Homo sapiens: one gene and its partners. The protein of the gene in region 4 interacts with the protein of the main gene of each other region in a biochemical or structural test. Each region holds a gene or a part of one and is shown on either strand. Other genes may lie near its edges. The genes, in order: RAB9A, PBK, SLC2A3, GRIP2, KCTD3, FAT3 and SLC22A3.

The links.
Region 1: the proteins of GRIP2 (region 4) and RAB9A interact in a test that uses a peptide from one of them, tested with the Homo sapiens proteins (one large-scale study listed by IntAct).
Region 2: the proteins of GRIP2 (region 4) and PBK interact in a test that uses a peptide from one of them, tested with the Homo sapiens proteins (one large-scale study listed by IntAct).
Region 3: the proteins of GRIP2 (region 4) and SLC2A3 interact in a test that uses a peptide from one of them, tested with the Homo sapiens proteins (one large-scale study listed by IntAct).
Region 5: the proteins of GRIP2 (region 4) and KCTD3 interact in a test that uses a peptide from one of them, tested with the Homo sapiens proteins (one large-scale study listed by IntAct).
Region 6: the proteins of GRIP2 (region 4) and FAT3 interact in a test that uses a peptide from one of them, tested with the Homo sapiens proteins (one large-scale study listed by IntAct).
Region 7: the proteins of GRIP2 (region 4) and SLC22A3 interact in a test that uses a peptide from one of them, tested with the Homo sapiens proteins (one large-scale study listed by IntAct).

What each region holds. Positions count from the first base shown.
Region 1 is NC_000023.11:13,695,371-13,699,520, reverse strand, and holds part of RAB9A (ras-related protein Rab-9A), read right to left. Parts: intron 1-4,150. UniProt on the Homo sapiens protein: The small GTPases Rab are key regulators of intracellular membrane trafficking, from the formation of transport vesicles to their fusion with membranes.
Region 2 is NC_000008.11:27,809,004-27,812,000, forward strand, and holds the end of PBK (lymphokine-activated killer T-cell-originated protein kinase), read right to left. Parts: exon of another isoform or gene 2,165-2,997; coding exon of another isoform or gene 2,132-2,164; coding exon 1,955-2,131; exon of another isoform or gene 1,499-1,954; coding exon 1,302-1,498; 3' UTR 621-1,301; downstream 1-620. UniProt on the Homo sapiens protein: Phosphorylates MAP kinase p38. Seems to be active only in mitosis. May also play a role in the activation of lymphoid cells.
Region 3 is NC_000012.12:7,932,879-7,937,705, forward strand, and holds the start of SLC2A3 (solute carrier family 2, facilitated glucose transporter member 3), read right to left. Parts: upstream 3,310-4,827; 5' UTR 3,157-3,309; coding exon 3,142-3,156; intron 1,025-3,141; coding exon 932-1,024; intron 270-931; coding exon 109-269; intron 1-108. UniProt on the Homo sapiens protein: Facilitative glucose transporter. Can also mediate the uptake of various other monosaccharides across the cell membrane. Mediates the uptake of glucose, 2-deoxyglucose, galactose, mannose, xylose and fucose, and probably also dehydroascorbate.
Region 4 is NC_000003.12:14,512,388-14,516,537, forward strand, and holds part of GRIP2 (glutamate receptor-interacting protein 2), read right to left. Parts: intron 2,092-4,150; coding exon 1,905-2,091; intron 1,424-1,904; coding exon 1,278-1,423; intron 471-1,277; coding exon 390-470; exon of another isoform or gene 52-389; coding exon of another isoform or gene 50-51; exon of another isoform or gene 1-49.
Region 5 is NC_000001.11:215,569,814-215,573,963, reverse strand, and holds part of KCTD3 (BTB/POZ domain-containing protein KCTD3), read right to left. Parts: intron 179-4,150; coding exon 125-178; intron 1-124. UniProt on the Homo sapiens protein: Accessory subunit of potassium/sodium hyperpolarization-activated cyclic nucleotide-gated channel 3 (HCN3) up-regulating its cell-surface expression and current density without affecting its voltage dependence and kinetics.
Region 6 is NC_000011.10:92,227,297-92,231,446, forward strand, and holds part of FAT3 (protocadherin Fat 3 isoform 1 precursor), read left to right. Parts: intron 1-4,150.
Region 7 is NC_000006.12:160,438,473-160,442,622, reverse strand, and holds part of SLC22A3 (solute carrier family 22 member 3), read right to left. Parts: intron 1-4,150.

The DNA of each region.
Region 1 (4,150 bases), on a different chromosome or scaffold from region 4:
TGTATGTGTCTGTTTCCTAATTACAATGTCAACTCCCTGGGAGGGACACACAACACCTAATTGCATCCATTCACTTGTCCCTTTTTTGTTCTGCCACTTCTCGTACAATGCTCTACATTTGGTGAGGTGCAAATAAATGCTACATTGAGAACGAAGAGTATATTACTTCCTCTTTTATTCTTGTTATTCTATTATTATTCTATTTGTGCTTTCTGTACCTAAAATTCTTTGTTTCTCTATCAGTTCTCCCCGCATTCTATTTTTGAGGTCTATTAAAATGTGTGGGTAGGAACAAAAACATTGATTCTTACTTGCAATCCCAATGAGAATCCCACTTTAAAATAAGTACTATTGACTGACTGCGACAGGGAGCTGGCAAATGCTGAAAAACGACTACATTCCTTAATAAGCTGCCAAAGGGAGAGCAGGCATCATTTGTAAACTGCCTTCTCAAAACTTGAGATTTTAAAACACATACTCTGTAACCCCTCCAAAAACTTAAAATGAATTTATCACTCCTGGTTTAAATTTAGGAACAGATTTTTTTTTTTTTTTTGGTCAAATTCACAAGTTCCTTTGGATTCACCCTGAATGTCCTACTTAGAGGTGTACTTACCACTTCATTTCACTTCATAGCTTGAGGAAATGAGGTTCAAAGAAAACCAGGGAAACAAAAGCATGGATAATCTGAAAATTATTTCTATTTTTGCTGGAGCTGTATTTATTTCCTCATAGCTTAATTTAGGCGTGTCTCACTTAACAGCCTAATTGGTTCCACTGTTTGTTTCTAAAAACTTCCTGATTGTCTTACAGAAATTTATGAGCAAGAAGCAAGTCAAGGAAAGTCATTATGTCTAATGGGTACCAGCTCTACAGCAAGAAATTACCAAGAAAAATAAATAAAGAATTAAGAAAAATACTGTCAGAAAATACCATACTTAGTGTGCAGGAAGAAGCAAAAGAAAGAAAAGGAAATACCATAGGAATAGGCCAACTTGGAGGCAAGACCTGCCAAGGTGAAATAAATTATCTAGTCCTATCTAGTTAATCACTGAGCATTACCTCAAGAACAGGAGGCAGCTAGAGGAGAAAAACTGTATTATCAAACCATACTATCGCTATGTCAGAGCACCTCCCCTATTGAAAGAACTTATTTCAATTAAGTAACTTTTTTTGAAGCTGAATCAGCTAACTTAACTTTTAAGAAATATGTTAACATTTTTCTTAAAACAAGGCACCTCTGTAGGTATGTTAACTAATCACTAACAGTGGTGGGGGGAGTGGGAAAGGAGGAAGTGAGAAGGGCCAAAAAAAAAAAAAAAAAAAAAAAGAAAAAAAAGAAAAAGAAGACTTAGTTAAGGAACTAAATCTTAAACCATCATGAAACTATATAGTGCAGCAAAATCCAACAGACCCTTCTGCAATGACGACAATGTTCTATAATCTGCACTGTCCAATATGGTAGCCACTAATCACATGTGGCTACTGAGCACTGGAAAGTAGCTGGTCTAACTGAAGAACTGAATTTTTCATTTAATTTTAACTAGTTTAAATTGCTACATGAGGCTAGTGGGAACTGTGTTGGACAGTGCAGGCCTAGAGTGTGGTTAATTGGGAGTCCATGAAATGAGCTTCAGGGAGAAAATACACTCCCTAGAATCACATGTGAAATAAGGATGAGAGCATTGGTGGAAGCTTGTGTGCTTGCGCTTTTTTTCTGGAAAGAACAAAAAATGTTTCATCAGATCTTAAGGAGTTTGGACACCAAGAACTGATTGCTACATGCCTGCATCATTTGTATGTTATGTGTGATCCATTTCTGTAGCTCATAACACCCTTCAAGAGTTTCTGTCTTTAGCAGAATTTCCTCTTTTTCTCCCTCACCCATGAGACTTTTATGAATATCACACTTTGACCATAAACTGTGATAGTTCAGTGAACAGCCTTACTCATGGGAAACTGCTAGTCCTGAGAAGTGAGAATAATTTTTTTTTGTTTTGCTTAAGTTTTAAGAACCAAGCATAAATCTACCTGCGATGACACTTACCTGTAAAAGGTACTTACAATACTTTTTGACAATAGAGTGCACTTTGGAAGACAGAATTAAAATGCAAAGACATAGATAAAAGTCACAAGATGAGAACATGGGGAATTAAAGGTAGATATTTCAGGAAGAAAAACAAATTATGAAAGGAATGAATTTGAACATATATGTCAGAAAAATATATTAAAGCAGCAAAACACAAATCAAAAATGATCTGCAACGTTCTGCTATCACCTAAAGAAACATTGGTTCTGAGGCCTCCCTTCCAGTTCGATAAGAAACCAAATGTCTTTAATTTACAGCAGACAAAGCTAGGGGTTGGGGAACTATACAAACTCACTGAGTGAGGGGCTCCACAAGGCATGGAGCCACAGCAAAAGGAAACTTCTCGACTGTTAGAGAAGTTAATTACAAGGAGTGAGGATTTCCTAAGAAGATATATTTAAAGAGGGGCAGCTATGTCCGGTATATAGGACTCGACTAGACTAGAGGCTCCCAAATACCACTCTGCAGGGAAGTTGTCACCAGCTCAACACTGCAGGCAGCTCTTCATCAAGTTCAGTTTATCCAATGTAACTGTCACTTTGTCAATGATCCCCCCAGGTCTGCCCCTATCGAAGTGTTGAAACTGACTTTTCTCACAAAAAGCTTTCCAAGCCCAACCTCACTCTGCCCATCACTACCCATTTCTCAATGTGCCTGCAAACCTGATTAACTCTCTGCTCAGTTTATAGGACACCAGGGCTCCCACCCCATCCTTTCCCCCTGATTGTCAGCAAAAGTCACCAAAGACCTCCTAATGGCCAATCCAATGGCTTTTTCTCAGTCCTCATCTGAATGCCCTACGGCACATACAACCCTAAGGTGAATACAGGGAAAAGTTCTTCTCTCAGGACTTCATTGTGTATGTTTCTAGAAAACACCTGCAAGTTTGACCAGCATCTCCACCTGAGGCCCAGCTAGTATATAGTGAATTCTCTCAGGTGTAGCCATCTGTCTGAATGTGCATGAACTAAAATCTTGGAAGGGTACCCAAGTCTTTTTTCTTTTTTTAAAAGACAGAGTCTTTCTCTACCACCCAGGCTGGAGGGCAGTGGCATGATCATAGCTCACTGCAGCCTCAAACTCCCGGGCTCAAGTGATCCTCCCATTTCAGCCTCCAGAGTAGCTGGGACTACAGGTGCATACCACCAAGACTGGCTAATTTTTTTTTTAATTTTTTTTTTTTTTTTGTAATGACAAGGTTTCACCATCTTGCCCAGGCTGGTCTTGAACTCCTGGGCTCAAGCAAGCCTCCCTCCTTGGCCTCCCAAAGTGCTAGGATTACAGGTGTGAGCCACCGTGCCTGGCCTCAAGTGTTTTTTAAAAACAAATAAGGAAACAGGTCTAACTGGGAAAGTGTCTTACACAGGATCACACATCTAGCTAGAGGCACAGGGGAGACCTTCAAGTCTGAGCCAGGACTTACCACCCATTACTGCTTCTATCAGGTCCAAACAGCCTGGCAGTAATCCTCTTGAAAATGTTTCCTAATTGTCCATAAAACCACTCTGATAATAGGTTCTGCTTTCTCTCCTCCTTGGCCCCTTAGCTTTCTTCAACATAGACAGCTCCCTTTCCTGACAAGCTCTTCATGAAGCTATTTCACGAGACTGAAACCCTTACCTGTTTCCAGATGGTATCTCCCTGGGCTATAAAAACCAGTGATTCCTAAAGTCTACATCCGCATGTCTGAGCCAGACAAGAATTTGCAACCCCTTGTATAGTATGTTCATCTGGTACCCTGATGGTAGTTCAAATTCAACATATCTAAAACTGAGCTAATTATTTTCTCCATTTCGAAAATCTCTTTCTTTTCTCTTACGCACTTCATTCAGCCACACATGAAATATGTCCACTTTTCGCACTACCTATTGCTATTGCCTTGCTTGCTCAAATAATAAATGCTATGGCTGTAATTATATTAGCAGCCACTATTAACTGAATATCTACTAGGTACCTGGCATATAGCACCTTAAAATTACCTGCAAGTTGGACACTATCATCCATGTTTTATAGATCAATAAACAGAAGTCCACAAACTTCCCCAGGTCTAACTAAATAGGG
Region 2 (2,997 bases), on a different chromosome or scaffold from region 4:
CTCAATGAAAAGCAATGGCTTATGTATTAAAGAGCCAATTCAAGAAAGATCCAGTTCCTGCTTTAAGTCTTAAAGCAGGAACTGCTATTCCTGCTAGGAAAAGAATGCCCTGGAGAAGCTGCTCTGTTGGCTTGGCAAAGAAGAGTGACACATGTCAGAGTGAGGATAAGAGACCCTATTGAGTATCAGGATGCAAAATTATACATACGTTTTTCTACAAATTAAGACAACTTCCAATTTACTTGTCACATTATTTTGATGGAATATATGCAAATTAATGTTGTGTCCTATTGCTTGGTACAATCTTATACCAAAAGGCCTTCAGTGATTTCTAGGCATTTTTAAAGTTCAGAGTGCAGTTGTTCCTAATGTTTCTGAGAACGCCCTGTGTCGGTAATTTTTAAAATTCTGTCTACACCCAAATGTAGGTATACCACCTACATTGGCAATTCAGTAATTTGGAAAATTCCCAGGGGACTGTGGCTTACAGAAACTACTGATCCAAAACACTTTATAGATTAGCAAAATAAGGCCAAGAGAGGGAAAGAAACCTCACATTTACTCAAGTTTAATGACAACACTCAAATCAATGAAGTATAAAATAATGCTGAGACACCTTCTGGTACCCAAAGTGTCCTTTATTCTTTATCATCCTATTTGAGTTTTATTGTTTTTACACAGCTGGGAAATGCTTAAGGTACAAATTAATAAATTTTAAACTCAGTATGGAAAATACATTTAATAAATTAAAGCAAAAACCAAAGATCTGAGGAGATCCAAGAGATCAAGACAATCTGTAACCAGAGTCTGAAGTATCCAAGGAGCTACTCTTTTTGAGGCATATTCTCCTCAGCTTCCAGTTATCATTTGATAAACACATCAGCAAAAGGTTCAGTGTTTTAAACAAATGTAGACTTTATTTTGTACTGTACAAAGTGCTAATGTCAGTAGATCCATTAAAATATAGAATATTTAAGAAAGATCATTAATAAAAGTAATGGTCATTCAATTTAATGTTACAGTTTACAGCGTTTTACTGCTAGTGTTTTAAGTCAGCATGAGCAGTATCAAAGTACTTATGTAGCTAGTTTCTAAAACTTTACAGAAAACCCAGTACAATTCCAAGTGCTTATAGCCAATATAAGCATATTTCATATTAGAAATAGTTATCCATATGTTAACAAGAAACTATGGTCCTCAAATATGCCAATTTTAGAGTCTAATAACTACTGATAGTAACTATGTAAATATTTTGGAATAAACAGTTATTTACGCAAGCCACACTTCAGCTGAGATGATCACTAGACATCTGTTTCCAGAGCTTCAACAATGTGTGCAGCAGAAGGACGATCTTTAGGGTCTTCATTAGTGCATACAGAGAAGAGTTCAATTACTTTCTGGTATGATTCATCCAGTTCTTCCATATTAATAGGTGGCCTAGTTCCCAACGCTGCATAGTATGCTTCATCATCAAAATCACTTTCATCAAAAGTTTTATCTTGAAGGAGTTAGAGATTGAAACAATAAACAAAATCACTTTATGTCATGGAAAAGTTTAATAGCTCACCCTTCTCCTGAAACAAGAATTTATGGTCCAGTATGCTTTCCATTCTGCCACAGACAGAATGGAAATGTCTTCAATTGTCCTGCCATCAAGTAGATTTGCTTTAGTCTTGGATTTATAGGTTATCGACCCCTACTTTTACCCTTCCTGTGATAGTTTTCCAATCAATCATTTTCTCAGGAAAGGGGAGTTTTTAAGATAATGTTTTGCTTCTCTGGATAGCCTCAATTTTTCTCCCTATTCTCAATCTATGTCTCATTTGTGTGAGATTAAACCTTGGTGGTACCAAATCAGTCATCAGTACTAATACATATCTTAGAAAGATAAAATTATATAATCTTTAGTGTGAAATGAAGAGATTGGGATTTATGTTAGAAATTGTATTCATACCTTCATCATCATCATCATTTGAAAGATTAATGTGTGGAATCGATAAAGTCATCATTTCCCACAAAGTAAGGCCAAAGGCAAATATGTCTGCCTTGTCAGTAATAACACCATTCTCCTCCACAGCTTCTTTGGGTTTCCATGGCTCTGTGCCAATGTAACAAGCCTCAGGGTCAGTCACTGAAACAAGCAAGATGGTTATGAAGGCAGGAGCTACAAATCACGAAAAGGCAAGCAACCCAAAGGGAAACAGGCGAACGATTTGAACAAGTAGTTCACAGGTTAATCAGTGTAGCCAGAAAATGTAAAAATACACTCAACCTCAATAAGGATTACTTTCTACCTTTCAGGTTGGTAAATATTCAAGAAGCTGGTCAGTTGGCAGGTATGTAGAGAAACAGCAATTCTCTTACAAATTAGTAGGAATATAGAATGTGGATGTTGAGATTACAGACTCTGGAGCCAGACTGCCTTGCTTGGGTTGGTTCAAAGACATGTGTGTGCAAGCTGCGTGACCTTGAGCAGATCACTTCTAGACCTGAATTTCTTCATTTTGTGAACAATATTAGGCTGAGAGAAGTACCATTTCTATGCTTCCATGATTGCTATGTCAAGGAAAAGGGAAAGGGACCAATCACACATAGGCTCTTTTTTAAAGCCCAAGAAAGAAATAGGTCCACTCACATTTCCATTTAAACTTGAGTCAACTTGTCAATTTCAATGAAAAAGCCAGCTAAAATTCTCATTAGGATTGGACTAAATCTCTGGATCAATTTAGTAAGCATTAACATCTTAATAGTATTGAGTCTTCCAAACCGCAGTCATATATTTCTCCACTTAGTTATATCTTACTGAATTTTCTCAGTGATGCTTTATAGTATTCATTACAGAGGTTTTAGACTTTTTTGGTTATTTATTCCGAAATATTTTGGGTTTTGGTACTTGTAAATAGATTTTAAACAATTCCATTTTCAATTATATACTGCTAATACACAGAAATGTAATCACTAACTTCACTATAGCTGTTTTATAGATTCCTTGGGATT
Region 3 (4,827 bases), on a different chromosome or scaffold from region 4:
CAAGGTGTTCTTATTCAAAGGCATCATCACCTCCCTGCCCTAACTCTCCACACTTGTCCTCAATGTGGCTGGTAGAGCCCACTTCCTTGCCCAGTTTCTAGTCAATACCTGCCAAAGCGGTTGACGAAGAGTCCGACGGAAAAGGAGCCGATCATACCCCCGACGGAAAATATGGCCACAGACAAGGACCAGAGAGACGTGAGCAGCACCTCAGAGGGTGGGGCATTTCCCTTGTCCGTCAAAGTTTTATTGATAAATTCCTTTATGATCTGCAAAATAAAAGGGTTGGTGGAAGAACAGACTGTTACAGTTGGATGAGAACAAAAGACAAACATTAGGGATCATTTCCTTCCTAGAGAATCAAGGGAATAAATAGACAGGAATGGAAGGGGCAGATAACGTATTGGAATTTATGTTAACTCTCGCTGGAATAGTAATTCTATTTGTCCTGAAAATCCCAGTAGGTGGCAGCACCGATGTTCACAGTCTACCCCAGCCCTCTGCTAAGGGAACCCAGCTTCTTTGTAACTAACCCCTAAGGGATAATACAGGATGTGCATCACTATGAGGTGAAAGAGTGGGAGGAAGAACAGCACCGCCCAGCGTTCCGGGAGTAAGTGAGCTTTGTGCTTCGATTAGATGACCCCACTAATTTTCCCCACCAATATTGTCTCCATCTTCAGTCTTGGACAGGATAGATACAAAGTTTGTCTTAAAATCCCCTAGTTTGGGGAGGGACCCTCACTAACTGTGTTGCTCAGGATGGTGTTTAACTCCTGGACTCAAGTGATCTTTAAGCCTCAGCCTCAGGAGTAGCTGGGACTCCAGGCAGATGCCACCATGCCTGGCCTTAAATTCTGAATTCCTGAAACCCTACTTAAAGGAATAACTTCCCTATTCTAAATTCTAATTATTGTGGCCTGGCACTCACCTTCTCAGGAGCATTGATGACCCCAGTGTTGTAGCCAAATTGGAAAGAGCCGATTGTAGCAACTGTGATGGCAAATATCAGAGCTGGGGTGACCTGGAGGGAGGGAAGACAGAGGAGAGAATAGTCCTTAAAACTTGTGATTGATGACTGTTTCTTATTAATTATGGAGCTGTATTAGGAGAATTTGAGTTATGAGTGGTATGAAAAGAACATCCAATGAGATTTAGGTAATTAATGGGGAAGACAAAGGAATAGATTATACTAAAGAACTTATCTGGAGATAAGAATGTGAAGTTAACTTGGTAAAAATGAAAGAAAATTGGGGAAGGAAGAAGTTAAGAGAAACTGGGTTGGTCAGTTTGGAAATATTTAAAAACTTGCATCAGGCAAATGTAGGCATAGAATTCCACTCACGAACTGGGAGGGCAGAGAAAAAGACAGTCTCGGGTAGGATTACTAAGAATTGACCATTCTGGAAACAAATACAGTGCAGTCTGATCTGTACCCCAGACTCCACGGAAGCCCACTGGTGGTGGTGGAGGGGGTGGTAGTTTGTGTCTTCACTGCTGGGTGGCTCTTTGAGTCTCTTATCTCTCAGGACCATGTAACCTACTGGATCTACTCACTGCATCCTGGCCCCATTTCAGTCTTCGTTTATTAAATACAGTTCTGCTATCCCTAACTCCCGCGCAGGGGAAGAAAGTACTTACTCTGAACCCAACATATAAGGGCGAACCCAACATATAAGAGACATTTCTTAGTGGGGAGAACCGGTCATCTTCACCTTGCCTGGAATAATTCAGCCGGGCGAGACATTTTCCATTTCTACCTTGGGGCAGCTCAATTTTTATACCTGAGGCCAACTTCTACGCCATTCCCCCCCACCCCACCACCCAAAATCCCTTCAACCTTTCATATCTTAAACTCCTTTCCTTTCAGGTCGGGCAGATTAGGCAGCAGGCTGGGAGCTTCAGCAGGAGAAGTGACCTTGCCTGCAGCCTCCCAGATGTCTCAGTCCCAGCTAAGCATCGGTACCCCGGAGGGCCCTGCCAGTGCAATGCTCTGTTAAATCTTTTTCCGTTTAGTAAAAATCTCTTCTGTCTCCTCTCATCATTCACTATCTTTGAGAGCCTTTTCTTCTTTAGTCTCATAATTTTCCATCCCTTTCTTATTTTCCTACATTTTCTTTCTTTCTGCTTTGTAGAGATGGGATCTCACTATATTGCCCAAGGCTAGTCTCAAACTCCAGGCCTCATGTGATCCTCCTGCCTTGGTTTCCCAAATGCTGGGGTTATAGGTGTGACCCACCACACCTGGCCCCTTATTTTTAGTTAAATTTATCTTGGTAAAAAATGCCTTTCTTGCTGCGCGCAGTGGCTCATGCCTGTAATCTCAGCACCTTGGGAGGCCGAGGCCGGCGGATCGCCTGAGGTCGGGAGTCGAGACCAGCCTGACCAACATAGAGAAACCCCGTCTCTACTAAAAATACAAAATTAGCCGGGCCCGGTGGTTCATGCCTGTAATCTCAGCTACTCAGGAGGCTGAGGCAGGAGAATCGCTTGAACCCGGGAGGCGGAGGCTGTGGTGAGCTGCGGTCGCTCCATTGCACTCCAGCCTGGGCAACAAGAGTAAAACTCAATCAGAAAAAAAAGAAAAGCCTTTCTCCCTGCAAATAATGCATATACAACACTCAATATTTTAGTATGTCCTGCACTCACGATTTTAACCCTAATAGGAAGGACAACTGGAATTCTTTCTCCTTAGCATCCACGAACCCCATATGTTATAGGACAAACAGATGGCCAGACCCTGGCCTGTGCCTCCAAACACAGACCTTTTCAAGGTCTAATGCTTCCAGAGAAGTCTTCACACTGGCTCTGAGACCCACACTTGTAATCCATACAACCAAGCAGCCCGATCCTCTAAACACTCAACCATCTCGTCCTCAGTGGCATATGGTTACCTAAAATAAACCTGAGAAGCAAACACAACTTCTCCGGGTGACTTTCCTATGATAAGGTGAACAGAACTGTATGACATTCAAAGAGAACTGATGAAGCGGCAGCAGTGCAGGCTAGAGACGAAATGAAAAGGCCTTAAGATAGCTTGGTGACTTAGGAGAAAATAGAACAAGGAGATTACCATTAATATTTGCCTTTCTGAGTGTATCCCAAACAAGCAAAAATAACCAGTAATTATATCATTCTTACCTTCTGTGTCCCCATCGCTGTAATCTAATTCAAGTCTTCAAGAAAGATCTAGGGGTGATTCCAGAAACAGCTTTTTCAGCCAACAAAACCTTCAAAATGTCCTTCTCAGCAGCAAGTTTTCTCCACGTCCTCAGGAAGGATCCAAAGTCTTACCATTACAGCATCTCTGGGTCTCGCTGGGATCATGACTATTTATAATCTCCGCAAAGGGTGGAGCCTGAAAGGGCGACAAGCCCCCAGCCCCACCCCACCCCACCCCACCCCCCTGAAGCAATCTTGTGATCTCTCGGAATTCTGTGTTATCAGAACTACCCCCGCCCCCGCCCCACAGACAATAACGCCCTCCCTCCCCCCTCTCTTAAAACCACATCCTTCCACTCTCTCCACCCTGGGTTTTTTTTTTTTTTTTTTTTTCAAAAGCTCATCCTTACTCCTTCCCTCTTCTAATAGCAGCTAGAGCCTCTTAGTTTCACAGACAAAATACTACCAGAAAAGCCTGGAGGGAGGGCAAATACACTATTTTATGCTCTCGCATCTGCTTGGGATTAAAACAATCTACAGAGAGATTAGAATAAATCTATCCATACAAAACGAAGTCAAGTGGGTGCTACTATCAGAGATTTAAGGTTGTTAGAAAGAGTGTTAGTAAGAATTCTTGATCCTATGAATTTATAGGCTGGGTCTACAATCTTTTTTTTTTCTTTTTTTTTTGAGACGGAGTACACAATCTTAAAGGGGAGGGAAAGACAGCCTGAGAGAAGAAAATCAGGGAAATAATTTTGCCAGTGTTCCTTTCTTCGCATAATCTCACCTGGAGGGAAGAAAATCTGAATTTCTAGGAGCCAGACCAACTATCAGGGCAGTAGGAATAAGAGGTTCAACTGTTTATGGAATACAATCCATATCCTTTTTTTTTTTTTTTTTTTTTTTTTGATATGGAGTCTCTCTCTGTCGCCCAGGCTGGAGTGCAGTGGTGCGATCTCGGCTCACTGCAACCTCCGCCTCCCGGGTTCAAGCAATTCTCCTGCCTCAGCCTCCCGAGTAGCTGGGACTATAGGCGCCCGCCACCACGCCCCGCTAATTTTTGTATTTTTAGTAAAGACGGGGTTTCACCATATTGGCCAGGCTGGTCTCAAACTCCTGACCTTGTGATCTGCCCGCCTTGGCCTCCCAAAGTGCTGGGATTACAAGTGTGAGCCACCGCGCCGAGCCCTATATTTAATAAGGCATTTGCCATATCACCCATTCTGAATTCTGCATCACTTTCTGCTAGTCTCAAGCTTATAGCATCTAGAAATGCAATAAATACCGAATTCAATTAAGCAGGTATTTGCCGAATACACGCTATGTATCAGGTACTCTCCAAGAAGCTGGTGATTCTTCAGTGAATAATAGAAAAAAAGGCCGGGCGCGGTGGCTCACGCCTGTAATCCCAGCACTTTGGGAGGCCGAGGTGGGCGGATCACGAGGTCAGGAGATCAAGACCATCCTGGCTAACACGGTGAAACCATTCTCTACTAAAAATACAAAAAAAAAAAAAAAAAAAAAAAAAATTAGCCGGGCATGGTGGCGGGCGCCTGCAGTCCCAGCTACTCGGGAGGCTGAGACAGGAGAATGGCGTGAACGCGGCAGGCGGAGCTTGCAGTGAGCCAAGACAGCGCCACTGCACTCCAGCCTGGGCGACAG
Region 4 (4,150 bases):
TTTGACAAACATGAATTAAGCACCTACTGTGTTCCAGGCCTTTGCTGGGCTCTGAGAACACAGAAGCAGGCAGAAAACCAAACCCAGCCTAAATATTTGTCACCTTCCAATGCTCTCTCACCATGGGCACCTCACAAGCCCCCTGGGAGACCCACGAGGCCAGGGGACTGCCATGGTGCAGAACGGGAAGCTGAAGCTTTGGGAAGCTGGGGTCTCGCTGAGAACACGCAGCTGGGTCCACGGAAGCCAGCCTCCCCACACCCCCAAGCCTTTTCCTCGGGCCCCGCAGGGTGTCACGCCATGGAAATGCTGGTCTGAGCTTGGCAAGCTCTTTTTCCCCAGCAGTTGAGCTCGCTCCCAGGGGCAAACAGCAGCGGGAGGAGACTCACAGCTGATGGTGATGCCCAGCTCCACGCTGCGCTTCTTGGGCAGCTTCACGTGGAAGGTGCCACTGCTTGGGATGACGGACTCTGGGGGTAGATGGACATAAACCGACGTGAGGACCCAGAGGAGGAGCCTCAGCGAACCCCAGCCCCATGCCCATTCTGGCTGTGCTGGGAGTGACCCCGAAAGTCACAGTTCTAATCTCATCCCCCTGCTTCCTCTCAACAGAGGAGGAAACTGAGGCAGAGTGAGCTGACAGATTTGCTCAAAACAACTGACCTGCTCTAGTCAGACCAGAGTCGGGGCTGGAACCAGGCCTCTTGGCTGTCGGCTAGTGTGGCGGGCGGGAAGGGAGCTCCCCACAGCCTAACAACCCAGTGTGAATCTAGCACATATTTCCTGAGCACCTACTATGTGCCAGGCCGTGGCTGGGTATTTTCATGTTTTCATTTCTCTTGGGCATATGCCTCACCTAACCCAAGTACCGCCCCTATAGTGAAAAGATCGTTATCAACTATTTACGGATGGGGAAACAGTGGAGGGAGTGTCCTGTCCAAAGCCACACTGTGTTGAGGTCACAGAAGCAGAATTCTGACCCAAACTGTTGTTCGAGGTTCTTTGCCTAACCCATGCTGAGAAGGAGCTTGGAGTATTTTCAGCTCCCCAACCCCATCCCCACTTGGTCCTGCCCCTCTGCAAAAGTCTCCTGGTGTGGAAACTTCTCCCTCCCGTGCCAAGGCTTCCCTTCCCACTATAAGCTGCAAAGCCCCTGGGAGAAGGGCACTGGGCACAGAGGGGGATGGGGTGGAGCGTTTGCACAGGCGAGGCAGGATAAAGAGAGGAGGGGTGCAGGGCCCTGAAATATGAGGAGGAAGCTTGGGCCACTCACTCACCCGCCACATCGAACTCCACCTCCAGCACGACCTTGTGGGCCAGTGCGGCGTCCCGCAGGAGCTGGTTGGCTTCCTCCATAGTCCCGTCCTCGGTGGCAATGCCATTGATGGACAGGACACGGTCCCCCACCTGCAGCAGCCCACACCTGAACCCAGGGGGCCCGGCAGAGAGAAGAGGCTCCGTGACAGGTCCATTGGGAGACAAGAACGCCATGCAGGGCAGGACTGAACCTGGGTCACACCTCCTGGTCTGGGGTGACTCTCAGCTCTGCCCTGGCCCACCTGTGTATCCTCAGGAATCTGGCTAAGGGCTGGACCTTGCTGGACCTCAGTTTCCCTGTCTGTCCAATGGGGATGATGGCATGGGCCTTACAAGTTGTGTATACAGAGGACTCTGCCTTCAGGCAGACAGGGGTTCAAGCCCTGGGATTCCATGGGTGAGCTGTGTAATCCTGGGCAAGTGAGTCAGCTTCTCTGAGCCTCGGTTTCCTCATCTGTAAAATGGGGCTGGTGCTGGGGCTGATGCAATGGTTAAGTGAGATGCGCTTGTGAAGCTAGGGCTTGGTGCTGTGACTCAGTTTCTCTCAGAGAGTGGCAGGCTCAGTAGGGAGGGGGCAGGAGGCTCACCTCTCAGCCGGACTGTCAGGCTCGATGAAGCACACGAGGGGTGGGGAGGACAGGGTCTCGGTGGCGAAGATGCCGCCCTGGAGCTGGAGGCCAAAGCCGCTGAGGGGGTCTCCACAGAGCACGACCTCCGTGGTCTCCGTGTGCACAATCTGCCCGCCCGGCCCCACCGTGCTGGAGGCTAGCGACACTGTAGGACAGGTGGGCCCAGCATTCAGGTGAGCCGCCCCACGGAGGTCTTCCTGCCAGGGCCTGCCCATCCCGGGGCCCTAGGCACTGGAGCCAGAGTGCAAGGAAGTGGGAGCCCTGACTCAGTCTGGGACCAGACAGATCACAGCTCACTCTGAGCCTTGGCTTCCTCATCTGAACAATGGGATCGTTGATTCCCACCTCGTGGGGTGTGGCAAGGACTAGGGAAGACAGTGGCTGGGATTGACTGTCATGCTGTAAAGCAGGTTCTGGGGGGCAGTGTCATTTTATTGTATTATTGTGCTGTGATCTACTGTAGTATCTACTATATTATGTCACTCTGCTTTTCGGTAAGAGGTTTATTGAGATATAATTTACATACCACAGTAGTCACCTATTTAATGTGTACAATTCAGTGGTTTTTAGTGTATTCACAATTATGCAAACATCACCACGATGCATTTGAGAACATTTCATCACCTCCAGAAGAAACCCTGTTCCCTTCAGCCATCCCCAAAGATCTTCCTATGTCCCTCAGCCCTAGGCAACCGCGAATCTACTTTCATCTCTGCATTTGCCTGTTCTGGGCACTTTATATAAACAGAATCATGCACCATGTGGCCTTTGTGACAGGCTGCTTTCACTTGGCATAATGTTTTCAAGTTCATCCACATTTTGCAGGTGTCAGAATTGCATTCCTTTTTGTGGCTGAATAATATTCCATTGTATGGATACACCACATTTTGTTTATCTATTCATCCATTGGTGGATACTGCGTTCCTTCCACTATTTGGCTACAGTGAATAATGCTACTATGAACATTTGTGTATAAGTTTTTAGGTGGAGATGACACATGTTTTCACTTCTCTTGGGCATATACCTAGGAGTGGAATTGCTGGGTGATATGGCAACTCTATGTTTAACTATTTGATACATAAGGTTATTTAATAAATATTGTTTTACATTCCATATATGAAATATATTTGCATCATTAATATGAATCCTGAAAGTCATTTATTATTTATCAAACAAAATTTATTTGGTATTTCATTACTAATTATATTATTGTGTCATATTATATTATTAAATTATATTGTATATTATACATTACAAAATGTGTAATATGTTATGTTTTTAGGTATATTGTGTTTTTATATGTATTTATTTATTTATTTTGAGACAAAGTCTCACTGTGTCGCCCAGGGTGGAGTGCAGAAGCGCCACCTCGGCTCACTGCAACCTCCGCCTCCCGGGTTCAAGCGATTTTCCCACCTCCAGAGTAGCTAGGATTACAGGCGTGTGCCACCATACAAGGCTAATTTGTTGTATTTTTGGTAGAGATGGAGTTTCGCCATGTTGGTCAGGCTGGTCTCGAACTCCTGGCCTCAAGTGATCTGCCCACCTCGGCCTCCCAAAGTGTGGGGATTACAGGCGTGAGCCACCATGCCTGGCCTATTTGTTTCTTTTCACTACTATGTCCCCATAGTATGTACATTCAGTACTATGCCCCATAATTAATTAATTATAATTAATTAATAAATTACTATCAACAGCAATAATGATAGTACTTTCTTAGTTACACATCCCAGGAAGGAGACAGGCAGAGGAGTCGCAAGAGCCTCCAGTCTCCACATCCCCCACCTACGAACAGCATTTCTGCATCTTTTCATCTACATATTCCCCACTTTGGTGGCCAGGAAAGGTGGTTAGTAGAGATATATTTTCTCTCTCATCTGACTGAAATCTGTTTCCCATTTCCCTTTGGCTGCCAGGGAGTGTAGAACCATATTTAGCTTTTTTCAGACACCAGGTGACCTGTACTCCTCTCTTCTTTCACCTGGTTCTATCTCAAATGGCCCAGTTTGATCTTCTATCCTTCCTGGAGGCCTCTGCAGCTCATGTGGCAGGAGGCTGAGAACCCTTTCTGCATCAACAAAGGAAAGACTGTTCCCAAGAAGGGTTTCAAAATTTTAGGCATTATTGTGTTTTGCCACTTCCACAGGGCTCCTGCCTTATCATTCACTACTTTTGTCTTCTATTGATTTACTTTTCTTAACATG
Region 5 (4,150 bases), on a different chromosome or scaffold from region 4:
AAGTTCAAAAATATATAATTTTAAGAGTTAACCTTTTTTATTAAAAAAAATTTAACTGACAAACATTATTATATTTTGGTAAATAAATGTATTAAAATATACACTAAAGAATTATAAGACATACCTGGAAAAAAAAGAATCTGGAATCCACATAAGAGTTTGTCTTGAGGTACTAAATCTGCAATTAAAAATCATCTGGTATTATAAGTGAGAACATGATTTGAAATTTCAGTATTAGTTAACTTGTTTTAATACACTGGCTAATGATTTACAAGATGTTTTATAGTTATAGCTGTACCAATATATTTATTACAGTTAATATTTTTAAACGTTGCTACTTTCAATTCAGAGTTAAGATTATACAAGCAGCTCTCAATAACAATAAACAACTTGTTATCCGCCATATAATGCATCTTAAAACACTACTTTCCAATAAGCTAATCTCTGCTGAAGAATCAACAATTAGCCCATCACACCAAGTCTCAACTTCTCAGTATAACATTCAAAATTACCTTCAGGTTCCATCTCATCTCTCCAGTACAAATGCTGGTTTTCCCCTCTAATAGGACAAAACTTCTTCATATCCCCAAAAAATTCATGCTTACTACCATTTTGGTATCTTTATTCAGCTAGATCACTCTCTTCATGTCCAATAATTCAAGATCCGTCCATCTTTCTTGATACCACTCAGGTTTTACCTTCCCTGTAATAGTTTTTCTAAATATCCAATCCTGTATTATCTCTTTTTAAGCTCATAGTAATTTCACTGTAAATTACTCATTTAACACCTTCTTTATAGGCAGTCTTGGGCTATCTGCAACTGCTGACTTCATTCATTCAAAAATCATTCAGCCAAATACATCACTGTTCTGAGGTTGTCATTTGATCAAGCTTGTATATTACCAAGGGAGGATCTTTACCAAAGTACAGTATAATAGACTGGGACAACAAACCAATAATTTATGTAAACTGATATGGCAAACAAAGCAATATAGTACTTGTTCAGTCCAGCCCTTCTCTGAGTATTTTCATTTTAAGATATCACCTTGAACTACAATGTTATCTCACCCAGCCTAGCAAACCTCTACTTTCACTCCACATTTATTTTCTGGCATTATATGAAATCCCTAAATTTATTTTTACCTTTCATACTTAAACTAAACAAGGTGACTGAATAGTGGCACTAGTTACCATGCACTATCACCAGGAAACACAGGCCAAACCCCAGCCAAAATGGCTAAGGGATGTTTCCCAGGCTGTGCATGTATACACTGTATCATCCATCTATTGTCTGCCATTACCTAAATTAGCAGCCTGGAATTATCAAAAACGTGGAAGTTGCTTACTTTTTTTTATTATGCTCACTGCAGCATAACAAACCTCAAAATACATCCTACTTCCCATTCCCATCTTCTAAGTGGGCTATTAAATAGCACTGGATTGCAGGCCAGGGTGACTGTGACTACCAAGGCTTATACAGAGTAGTGTCAGAAGTCTCACAGATCTCTCAACTTTGCAAGTCCATCCAGGCACCTGAGGCAACAATGGCTCATAATATTTTACATATCTTGATAAATGGATTATCTGTAAATTCACTTTTCAAACTCAGTTTCAGAAATGGATTTTGTATTAAAAAAGTAGATGTTGTTTTTTCTTAAAGCCAGAGAGGACCACCTAAAAGCATTGTTCTTAGCACCTAGCACACACCCAGTAAATGTTTATTGAAACTTATGTGTGATAAACAGAATCACACTCTAAAACTCAGTTAAATGTTCTGTACAAAACGGAGACTTGATTCTTCTGTACGATCTGCAGGCATTTTATGGTTACAACAGAGCACTTTCAGAATACACTGGTGTTGACACACAGATGTCACTAAACTGCCCACTTAAATCATTTAGCAGTATCAGTCTCAGTGTCAGTAACAGCAGAAGCCGTGTATGCACTGTTCCATAAAAAGTGCCTTAGTCTCCAAAATAAATTTTCTATCATTATCAAAACATGCTTTCCAATCACAATTAAAAGTTTATCTCGGCTAGGCGCGGTGGCTCACGCCTGTAATCCCAGCACTTTGGGAGGCCGAGGCGGGCAGATCACGAGGTCAGCAGATGGAGACCATCCTGGCTAACACGGTGAAACCCCGTCTCTACTAAAACTACGAAAAATTAGCCAGGCGTGGTGGCGGGCACCTGTAGTCCCAGCTTACTCAGGAGGCTGAGGCAGGACAATGGCGTGAACTCAGGAGGTGGAGCTGGCAGTGAGCTGAGATCGCGCCACTGCACTCCAGCATGGGCGACAAAGCGAGACTCCGTCTCGGAAAAAAAAAAAAAAAAAGTTTATCTCCACTTCTTCCCACATACAACTTTACAATTTGTAAGGAAAAGTATTCTTTCATTGGCTAACTGAAGGAAAGACAGTAAAACAATTCATTTATTAAAGACATTTAAATGTAAACTACAGTAAGGGGTACTTTAGGGAACACATAGAAGTTGACTACTAACTAATTTCACAGGTTATGGACAGTCTAGGTGTTTATAAGCAGTTCCTACGCCCATTTATCTGATTAACAAATGAGTCACTTTAAGAAAACACTGCAAATGCTCCTAAATGCGTTTCTTAATAGACTCTTAAGAAAAATAAAAAATACACAGATTACCCCAGTCACAGAAAACTGACTTGGTCCAAAATCAAAGCAAATCCACTCAATGGTAAATTGAAGGATCCAAGGATTCATACATTGCAGATTCACTGTTTTGGAGGCCATCAAATTCATTCCAAATGAGGACAGCTTATAACTTGCAATCTTTTATATTCACCACTTATTCACCAATTGTATTCCAAATAATTAAAATTATGTGCTACTTAGAAAATCACAAAGGTCTGCTTAAAATCATATTATCAGTTTCAATTTTAATCAGCATTTTGGGGAAAGGTTAGTAACCTGGAATTTCTGGGCAAAGGAATTAGACCCTCATCCCCACCAATTTTTTTTTAAACTTCTGGCCCCAAAACCAGTCTCGAATATAACTTCATGAAAACTAACACACTTAAAATTACACATGATGAGCATAATCATTTGAAAGCCTTTTCTGTTTTGATTTGTTTTTTATCCCATACCCATAGTGTCCCAAGAACAGAGTCATGTACAATCTGGTTTCAGCAAAGGACTAAAGAAATTTGCATACCCACAGTTATACTTCATGCAACTTGCCTCCTACTAAATTAACTTGGTAGCAATCTAACTAGTTATTTATTCTGCACTGTAAGTACTGATAATGCCACTAACCCTTGCATTTCACATTTATTACTTCAAATTCCTATAACAATCTGATAAGATTGGTACTACTGTCTGTCACTTTACATTTTAATAGACTAAGTATCAAAATATTTGTCCAAGGTTGCTAGGCTAGTTAGAGATAAAGCCTGGGAATTGGAAACATATACCTGACTCAAAAGCTCTTTGTCCAGGAGTCCTCAATGGCTAGTCCCAGCCCTCTTGCATGAGGCCCAAAATCACACTTGCCCATAACAGAATTAATCATAAATTCAGTCATAGTGAATTCACTTCATTACTTTTTGTAAATAACGAATACTAACAATTCTAAATGAAACTTCATCTACTCTACTTTCTGAATCACCCACAAAGTATTAAACCATAAAAATTAGTCATTTCTATAATTCCTTTGAGTATATCCATTTTCATGTCTATTCTCCTGAGGGAAAAAAAAAAAAAGACCTTACCGATAGCATATGCTTCTCTGCTCCCAACAAACTCTCCTTTTGAGTTTTACTCTATCACTTCAGAACTTCAATTCTATGCCACAGCAGTTCCTGAACTTCAGTGGCAATCATATCAGGATTTTTCTCTTACAGTGGCTTAAGTGACTATGTTACACTGTGTTTTGTACAAGATACAGGTGACTTCTAGATCTCATCTAGCTCTAAAATGCTGCACGAGTGTAGGATTCAAAGCAAATCTAGAAAATATTCTTAGAATATGGAGTCGGATGTTGTTTTCTACGGGCCATACCATTACTACTTATTTTATAAGCCATTTTATCTTAACAATTTTCTGAAGTTTTTTAATGTTTCCATTCCCACTAACAATTTCATGTCTTGTAAACTGTTCAAACCAGTAATATATGTACTA
Region 6 (4,150 bases), on a different chromosome or scaffold from region 4:
GCAGGCCTACCAGTTCATCACGGTGGATTTGTGCTCCTGGCTTTGTTGCTAGGATTAGATTCTCTGATTGTGCCCAGGCTAAGTTAAAATAAAAGCAGAGAGACAGAGAAGCGGCCAGAAAGACTGCAGACGACTTTGCCTGGATCCAGGCGGCAAACTCAGGTGGTGGAAAGGGGAAGCCCGCCATCTAGGAATTGAGGACCGAGGTGCCCACATCTCAGTATCGATCAAACAGAGCCCAGATTTCTTCTCCACCAGCAGACACTGAACTTCTCTTCACATTTACTGAATGCTTGAATGATGTTCTGGTGTGACGTGGAGATTTGAATCTGAGAAGGAAAGGAAGGGAGGAGGGGATGGAGGAGAGAAGAGAGAAGAGATTTGAGAGACTGAGATTCTTCAGAATCCTAGAAATTGCACAAAGCCAACTGCTTCTGCTTTTTTTCTTTCTTCTTCTTTTTTTTTTTTTTCTTTATTCCTAAATTGGAGCAATTGAACAGTGAGAGAATAAGGAACAGCCAAGGAAACCAGGGCTCTAAGAGACAAAGACAAAAAAAAAGCATAATAACTTTAGCACTTTGATGTGCTTCTTATTTAATAGGGTTGGAGTGGGGGAAGTTTTTTTTATTTTTTTTTTAACATTTTACAAGGAGAAAAGTTGTCTCTTAGAATTAAACCGAATGTTGATATTCAATCATGAATCTCAGTTGTTGCCTTTTTGGAACTTGAACAATGAGTGATGCTGGGGCCAGTTTCTGTGCACAGTGCACTGGGATGAGAAAGTTCCCAGAACTGTCCAGTTATAATGTCTTCATATCATCTGAATCACACAGAGAACTCCACATGAAAGGCAGCTGGCTCAGAGATCAGAAATCAGTCAGCTGCTGGGCTGGCTCCATCTCTTGTGGCTGCAGGATTTTCACAGCCAGGGTTTGTTGACCAGCGACTGGCTCTCAAGCCTTTTAGAAATCTTTCTTTCAAATTTTATTTATTCTGGTCTCTGGCGGAGTCATTTTGGGGATTTTTTTAATAGGACCCAGTCTGTCTGTTAACTAGCAATTACAGTTGTGCTGAGCTACTCAAAAATGAAATGAGTAGCAATAAACAGTGGATACCCACTGACCTGTATGCTATACGGTTATTTTGCTAGCCCACAGCCTTTGTAAAGCTATGGCTCTTCAGGCTGCTCACAGAAGAACATTTTGATGTGTCAGGTTATGTTATCATCCCTGCTTTCTTCTTCATACGATCCTGAATGACCTTAGCTAATCTGGCTGATGAATTATGTCAAATAGAAAGAAGTAGGCAATTACCAGGCAGGAGAGGGTATTTAGTCATTACCAGCAGGTCTGAGGAGTGCTCCTGGTGGCTGTTGCGTTGTTATGCTATATTAATAGCTCACAAAGCATAAAGGACTATTGTGGCTTTATTTTACCAGTTGTGGCATTGGGGTATGGCATTCCTTCATAGCCCACATCTGTCCAGTTGCCTGGTGGGTTGGCTTTTTCCTCTAGGGCAAGAAGGAGAAAGATAGTAATGAGGATATTTGATTTTTTTTTCCATTGTGGGGTCATCCCCAGGTTTTTCTTTTTTTTCCTTCTGCAGGAGCCTTGAGTAGGGAATCATCTGATGGGAGCAGGTGGGCCTGTCCATTTGAATTGATTTCCTTTGATTGCTGAAGAAGGACTATTGATGAACCACTTCTTTGCTGATTGTGGCAAACATTAGAATTGGAATGGAAATTTAAAAGAAAGGGATCTGACAGACTTAGAGTGAAGGATTTGTGTTCTGCCCAATTCCTTCCTAGAGTTAGCAGAGCCTCTGATTTCTACAGATATGCATGGTCTTAAAAATATTAAAGGAAGCACAACTCCTGTGTATGCAGTTTTACTTATTGGTGAAATTTTCTGCAATGCTTTTTTGATCTCTAACTGTTGAATATGTCATTTTCATCATCTTTCTACCCAAATTGTGAGGAGTGGGTCTTTGTTTTTTAATATATCCTGACCTCTTGAGGATCACCACAGTGTGACAACTTTCTCTGGGAAGACTCAGAGAGTAAATATCTTTTCTGTGTTTTGGTCGATTTAATTCTACAGGCTTCTCAAACTTACTGAGTTTTCTGTCAATTGCAGGGTATCTACTCCTTTAATAAGCTTTATTCCTTTCCTTGTTTTCTTTTTTTGTTTTTTCGTGTTTTTTTTTTTTTTGTTTTTTGTTTTTTTTTACATTGCCTCCCTTTCTCCAAATTTCTAAGAATAATTTTCAGGAAAGACTGCCTTTCCTTGAAAAAGAAATTCAGCTTAATGACACAGACTGCATTTATTGAGAACATATTTGACACTTGTCTAGTGGCTTCAAGCCAGTTTCTGGTCTACCAAAATAGGCTATCAGTTACATGTAATAGTGACAAATGACCCATTCTAGCAGTTCTGAATTGGAATGGCATTTTCAGGTTAGTCTTAATTTTAGCATATTCCAGGACTTAGATTTTTTTTCTTTTTTTTTTTTTTTTTCTGCTAAGTGGAAGGGATGAAAATTTGAGAATGGATTAACTGGCATGATGATAGAAAATAGAAAACAGATTTCAGAACTTAATCAATTAAACTCTTCACATAAACAAAATATTACTTCCTTCACCAGATAGATATATATGAATGTGGAGAGCCTAGAGGAGGTGTGAGGAGGGCCACAGCATTGTCCTTCCTTGAACAATGCATTATTGAAGGTGTTGCCTACCGTGGGCGGAAAAGTCATACAGAGGACCCTGAGAGGAGTCCTTGAGCAGTTGTTAGTATTTCAACGTTCTGCTCTTCCAGGGTTCCAAAACTGTGAATTATAGACTCTTTAATAAAGGAAAGTTGTTTCTTTAACTTTTGCCTTTGTACATCTGAAATATATCCCTTTTTAAAATTCTGTAAAGTCACATGGAATTTAAAATAATTTTTTGTCTTTAAAAAATGTCTTGCTTTCTCCTCTATTTTCCCTATTTTATTTTTGTTATTTATTTATTTAGAAACAGAGTCTCGCTCCATTGCCCAGGCTGGAGTGCAGTGGCGTGTTCTTGGCTCACTGCAACCTCCGCCTCCTGGGTTCAAGTGATTCTCATGCCTCAGTCTCCCGAGTAACTGGGATTACAGGCGCACACCACCATGCCCTCTTAATTTTTATATTTTTAGTAGACAGGGTGTTTCACCATGTTGGCCAGGCTGGTCTCGAACTCCTGGCCTCAAGTGATCCACCCACCTCGGCCTCCCAAAGTGCTCGGATTAGAGGCATGAGCCACCGTCCTCAGCCCTGTTATTTATTTTTTAAAAAAATTATTTTAAAGTTCTTTTCAGCGATATTTACTGAATCTACCTCTTTCACAAGACAGTGGGCAAGATTCAAAGAATAGTAAAATATATCCATTGCTTCTGCTTCGTGCTGTTTATTGAGAAAATGAGAGATGCCTGTGTGTGTACACTAGAAGTCACATCTAAAAATGTTTATTAATTGACAAAAGAATGTCTATGAACAGGAGCCTCAAGGAGGAGGGAGAGATTAATGTGAGGTGGAGTAAACTTTTAAGAGGAGTGTAAGTTATTAAAGTGAATATAATTCCATTTAATAATTCTTACTACAGCCCTAATGTATGCAAGGCACTATGAAATAAATTAATTCCTTCATTTGTCAGGGGGCAGTGCAGAGCTCCTTTTTGGAAGAACGTATTCATGGGGCAGCCCAAATGGGCTGTCGGAATGTTAGTTAATATTTTGAGAAGACTTCAGAATTTATTCATGTCCTTTCTCCACTATCCCCTTGTGGTCTCCCACCCCCCAATTTCAAAGGTAACTTTTAGGATTTTTGAATGTGTCTGGGAGCCTGCATGCAGGTGCACATGGTGTATTCTTAGTCCTCTGTTTTCCTATGTTTGAGACTCAGTTATGAATCTCAAGGTTAACTTTGTCACAGAACACCTCAGAGTGTTCTGTCCTTTAGGTATTCATCATTTAGATCTGTTGCTTGGTTTTTTACCTTAAAAAAATTTGTAAAAAATGGCTTACAAAGTAACATTAGCTTCCAGAATGTGAGTGAAAAGGCAGACTTTTACCTTGGACGTTCTCTATGACTTGATCCTACTTGTACTTTTCAGAGCAGTTGCAAATAA
Region 7 (4,150 bases), on a different chromosome or scaffold from region 4:
TAATAATGTAACCAAATTTCAACAACAATGAAACTAGATGATAGCTAATATTTTAGAGCGCTAGATGCCTTTCTGAGCAGGTTGGATTATAGGAAGTACAATTCAAGAACCGTTTGTTGAGCATGAGCAGCCACTACATTGGAACATTGTTCCAGGCAATGACCTCCTAGAGAGCCAAAGCACACTGGCTTTTTGTCCAGGTGGTAGTTTCCAGTCATGCCTTTGAGCCACCACGTTCCCACAGCTGGTGCCCAGCTGTCCTTTCTGTGCATACCTTGCGGTGGTGACACAAGGAATAGCCGTTCCCAGCACACCTGGGGAGTTCCTCACGTGAGCTGACCTTGGTTTCTAGAGTGGAGCAAGCTTTGAGGACCAGGATCTTTGGAAGGGGACATCTATTCTGTGTGTTACCACTAAGGCAAATGTCACTCATTGTCTTCTTCATCCCCCATTGTACTACTTCCTTCAATAAACCATCCAGAAGGAGCCACATTCATCAATGCTAATTGGTTCGTCCATTTTAAAATGAACTGTTTTAGGACTGCTCTGGTTGTATGAAGAAATTTTCCTTTCCTCCCTACTAACTAGTGGGAAATGCCAAACATTCTATATTAAATATTTTCTTTCTTTTATGTTTTAAGGGCAGAGGAGTTAACCATTTTTACTCTAAAAAGTCACTGCTCTAGCTTTCCTAGAAGTTGTGCAATTGATGTCATCCTTTCCTAGGGGATTTGGTATTGAGGACATATGTCTGCATGAACAAGACCATATCTGCTCTCCAAAGCAAAACGAAGCATGTCCAGTGTTCATGTGCCTTTCATTTTCCCTTTATATCCAACACATATGTTCATTTAGCACTAAATAGTCCTCCTGTTTCCTAGGGGAATTATTGAACCTTCCTGAATATATAATTTTTTAGTAGAAATGAATGAGGAGGATGAAAGAAGAGAATCAAGCCCAGTAGACTTCTGTGTGTTCTCTCTAGAGAATAGCCAAGTCAAAAAAAAAAAAAAAAGCTAAAATTCATTAAATAAAACAATTGCCCAGGAGCACAGGTGTAAGGAAAAGATGGCTCAAGAATCCAAACCATTTCTGGGAGTCTGAAGTTTACATATTTTGACTGCAAACTGGCCAAGGACATCCTGGTGCACTTGATGTTTTTCCCACATGAGAACCCTTGTAGCTGTCACGTTAACGGTTATATCAGGCAGTGAGGAGGCCAGGGTTGTGCTGATGTGCTGGGCCACTGTCTGCTCTGGAGCAGAAGGTTTGTCAACATGTGTTATTTAGGCTTTGCTTCTTTATGAAGACCAAGAAAAGGGGGGAGTGGAGACTAGGTAATGCATTCCACTCCATCTTTCAATGAGCATGTGGTACTGGAAGGGGAAAGTGGGAGCAGAGACTCAGATTCCCTGGGTCCCAGCCCGATGGGACCATCTCCTGCCACTCCCGGGCTGCAGTGAAGGCTGCCTGCTACCTAGGAAACAGCTTCACTATCCAGGTTGGGTTCTTCCATTGTATGTTTCTTTTCACTAAATCAAGATTGCTCTAAAATTGAGTCCCACCGACAAATTCAAGGGCAATTTGGGTTTATAACCGAGGCAAGGTGTTTCATGGAAAAATCCAAACAAAAGCCAGAGACCAAATTAAAACACACACACACACTCCACCATGATAAACATATGTGGTTAACTCAGATAAATAGCCAGTCAATTCAGTAAAACATTCAGAAAATGCCAAGTTGCCCCATTTGTGGAGATGTGGTCTGTCCGGAACATTGACCTTAATCTGAAAGACTCCCAACTCTTTTCCAAGCAGTAGAGTCCAGTATCAAACTATACTGGAACAGAGATTTTGTTGAAATGTGTAACCAAAGAAAAGTTTCTAAGGCATTGCATGGTTCATTAACTAAAGAGTGAAAAGAAAACTGTAGGAAGTATGAATAAATATATACACACAAAGAAATTCTTGATTCCAGTAATAAGCTAAATTCATTTTGAGGTGGCCATAGACATCTTTTGGTAGCAATGACAAAAACCACAGGGCAATTTAAAAATGAGTACTGAAACTAAAATTGTCTTCCATGGAATTACATGAGAACAAAGAAAATGTTTTCTTCTGAATGTGGATTTGGTCAAGCTACTAGAGATGATTGGGAATAATACCTCAATTCCTGAAGAAAGGATGCAGGACTTAAACAAAACTTTATATGTCCTCTGAATGGATCATCTACTCTGAGTTCTGAAATAAAGTTTAGTGAGAAATTCTAGTAGAAATGTCTAAATTAAGATACATGAACTCACTTTTCAATTAAAGAAAAATAAAAGTGGAAGACAAGTTTTCCAGTTCAAGAAGACGACTTATCCAAACTGCTAGGTTTGTGGTCATCCTAAATAAACTCAAATTAAAGATGGCAGACAGGTATGGATAAAGAAAGGTCTTTATTTTCCAGACATTAATGAGTGTTAAGAAATTTGGACTAGAAGCAGTGAGTCTGAGATGAGAATACAACCAGAACTACTATTTCTTCTTCCAGAATTCCATTCTTTAGACCATGAAAAGTTGGGTCGAGTGGAGGGAAAGCTGATTAAAGTGTTTGCTGTGAGACTATTTTAGAGCTGGTTTCTCCAAAAGCTCATCTGTATTCTCCCCAGGGGCTGGCGACCTACTACTGACGTCAGGAATGGCTGAGCAGAAAAGCCTTTCTCGTGCTAATTAACCAGTGGCTGGAATCAAGTCCAATGGGTCTTTAAATTGGAAGGACTCAAGGGAGGATCGTCTGTTAATATTTGGAACTCAGTTTAGGGATTTGAAATGTATTCTTGCCAGTCAGTCATGACTGACATATGACTATAAAAGCAGCCAAGTCTGCAGAAGGTAAAAATAAAATGTGTCTAGAATAAGAGCAATTCATTTTCAGTCTTGCTGAGAACAATTCTAAAGCTTCAATCAGGAAATTATATCTATAAAATAAAACTGGTTAGACAAGGGAGAACAGTCTGTTCTTGGTGTTATATTTTCCAATATATGAAAGAATTCTCTACAAAATAGTTATATGACTATCCGGCTAGTTACTTCTGTCTTGATTTGGACACACAGCCTTGAATGCTTTCTGGGGTCATTCTGAATGCAACAAACATTAAAGTCATCCCAATCAATCTAGGACCAGAGAAAATCTTATAGAGTAAAGTATATATATATATCATGAAATGAGGGGACACACCGAAGCATGCATCTTTCTCGCTGCATTTCTAATTTCATATACAATGAATATTTCATTCATTCCTAGTCCACATACGATGAGAACAGAAGACTTCATCTCAGGGAGCTACAGTTGTATGTTATATCCAAAGTACCAAAGTAAAATAGAACAGTAACGTCTCCAATGTTTGCGATTTTTCACTCTTCTTAAATTATACAATTTTGAGGGCAGGAATTATGTCTATTTTGTTCACCTCTCCATTCCCCTCCTAGTTCAGTGGCTGGCAATTAGTCGATACTAAATAGATACGTATTAAGAGATAGCTATTGTACAGATCCTCCAACTCTTATAATATGTTAATTCCATGTAGTGGGTTGAACAGTGTCTCCCAAAATTCATGTCTACCTGGAACCTCAAGGCTACTACATTTGGAAATAAGGTCTTTGCAGATGTAATTAGTCAAGGTGACACTGACACAAGCAGAGAAGAGAATGTCCTGTGAATATGGAGGCAGAGATAGGAGTGACACCAAGGAGCTGCAAGGATTGCCAGAGAGAGGCATGAAGAGACCCTTCCCCAGAACCTCTGGACATAAGCACCCTTGGATGCCTTGATTCTAGACTCCCAGCCTCCACACCCCTGAGAGCATAAATGTCTGTTGTTTCAAGCCGGTGAGTTTGTGGTACTTATTACAGCAGCCCTGGGAAGCGAATGCACTCAAGGAAAACAAGAGAAATGTAAATAGGTGGTTGCTGTTCATCATCAAACATTCCAACATGTCAGGGGACTTGTACATTGTGTGTGTGTGTGTGTGTGTGTGTGTATGTGTGTGTGTGTGTGTTCCGAATATTGGCATTCCTGTAATTTTATTCAAATAGGGCCTACCTCGTGTTTTAAGAATTCATAAACCTTCATTTAATTAATAAACTCATCTGTAAATGTCTGACT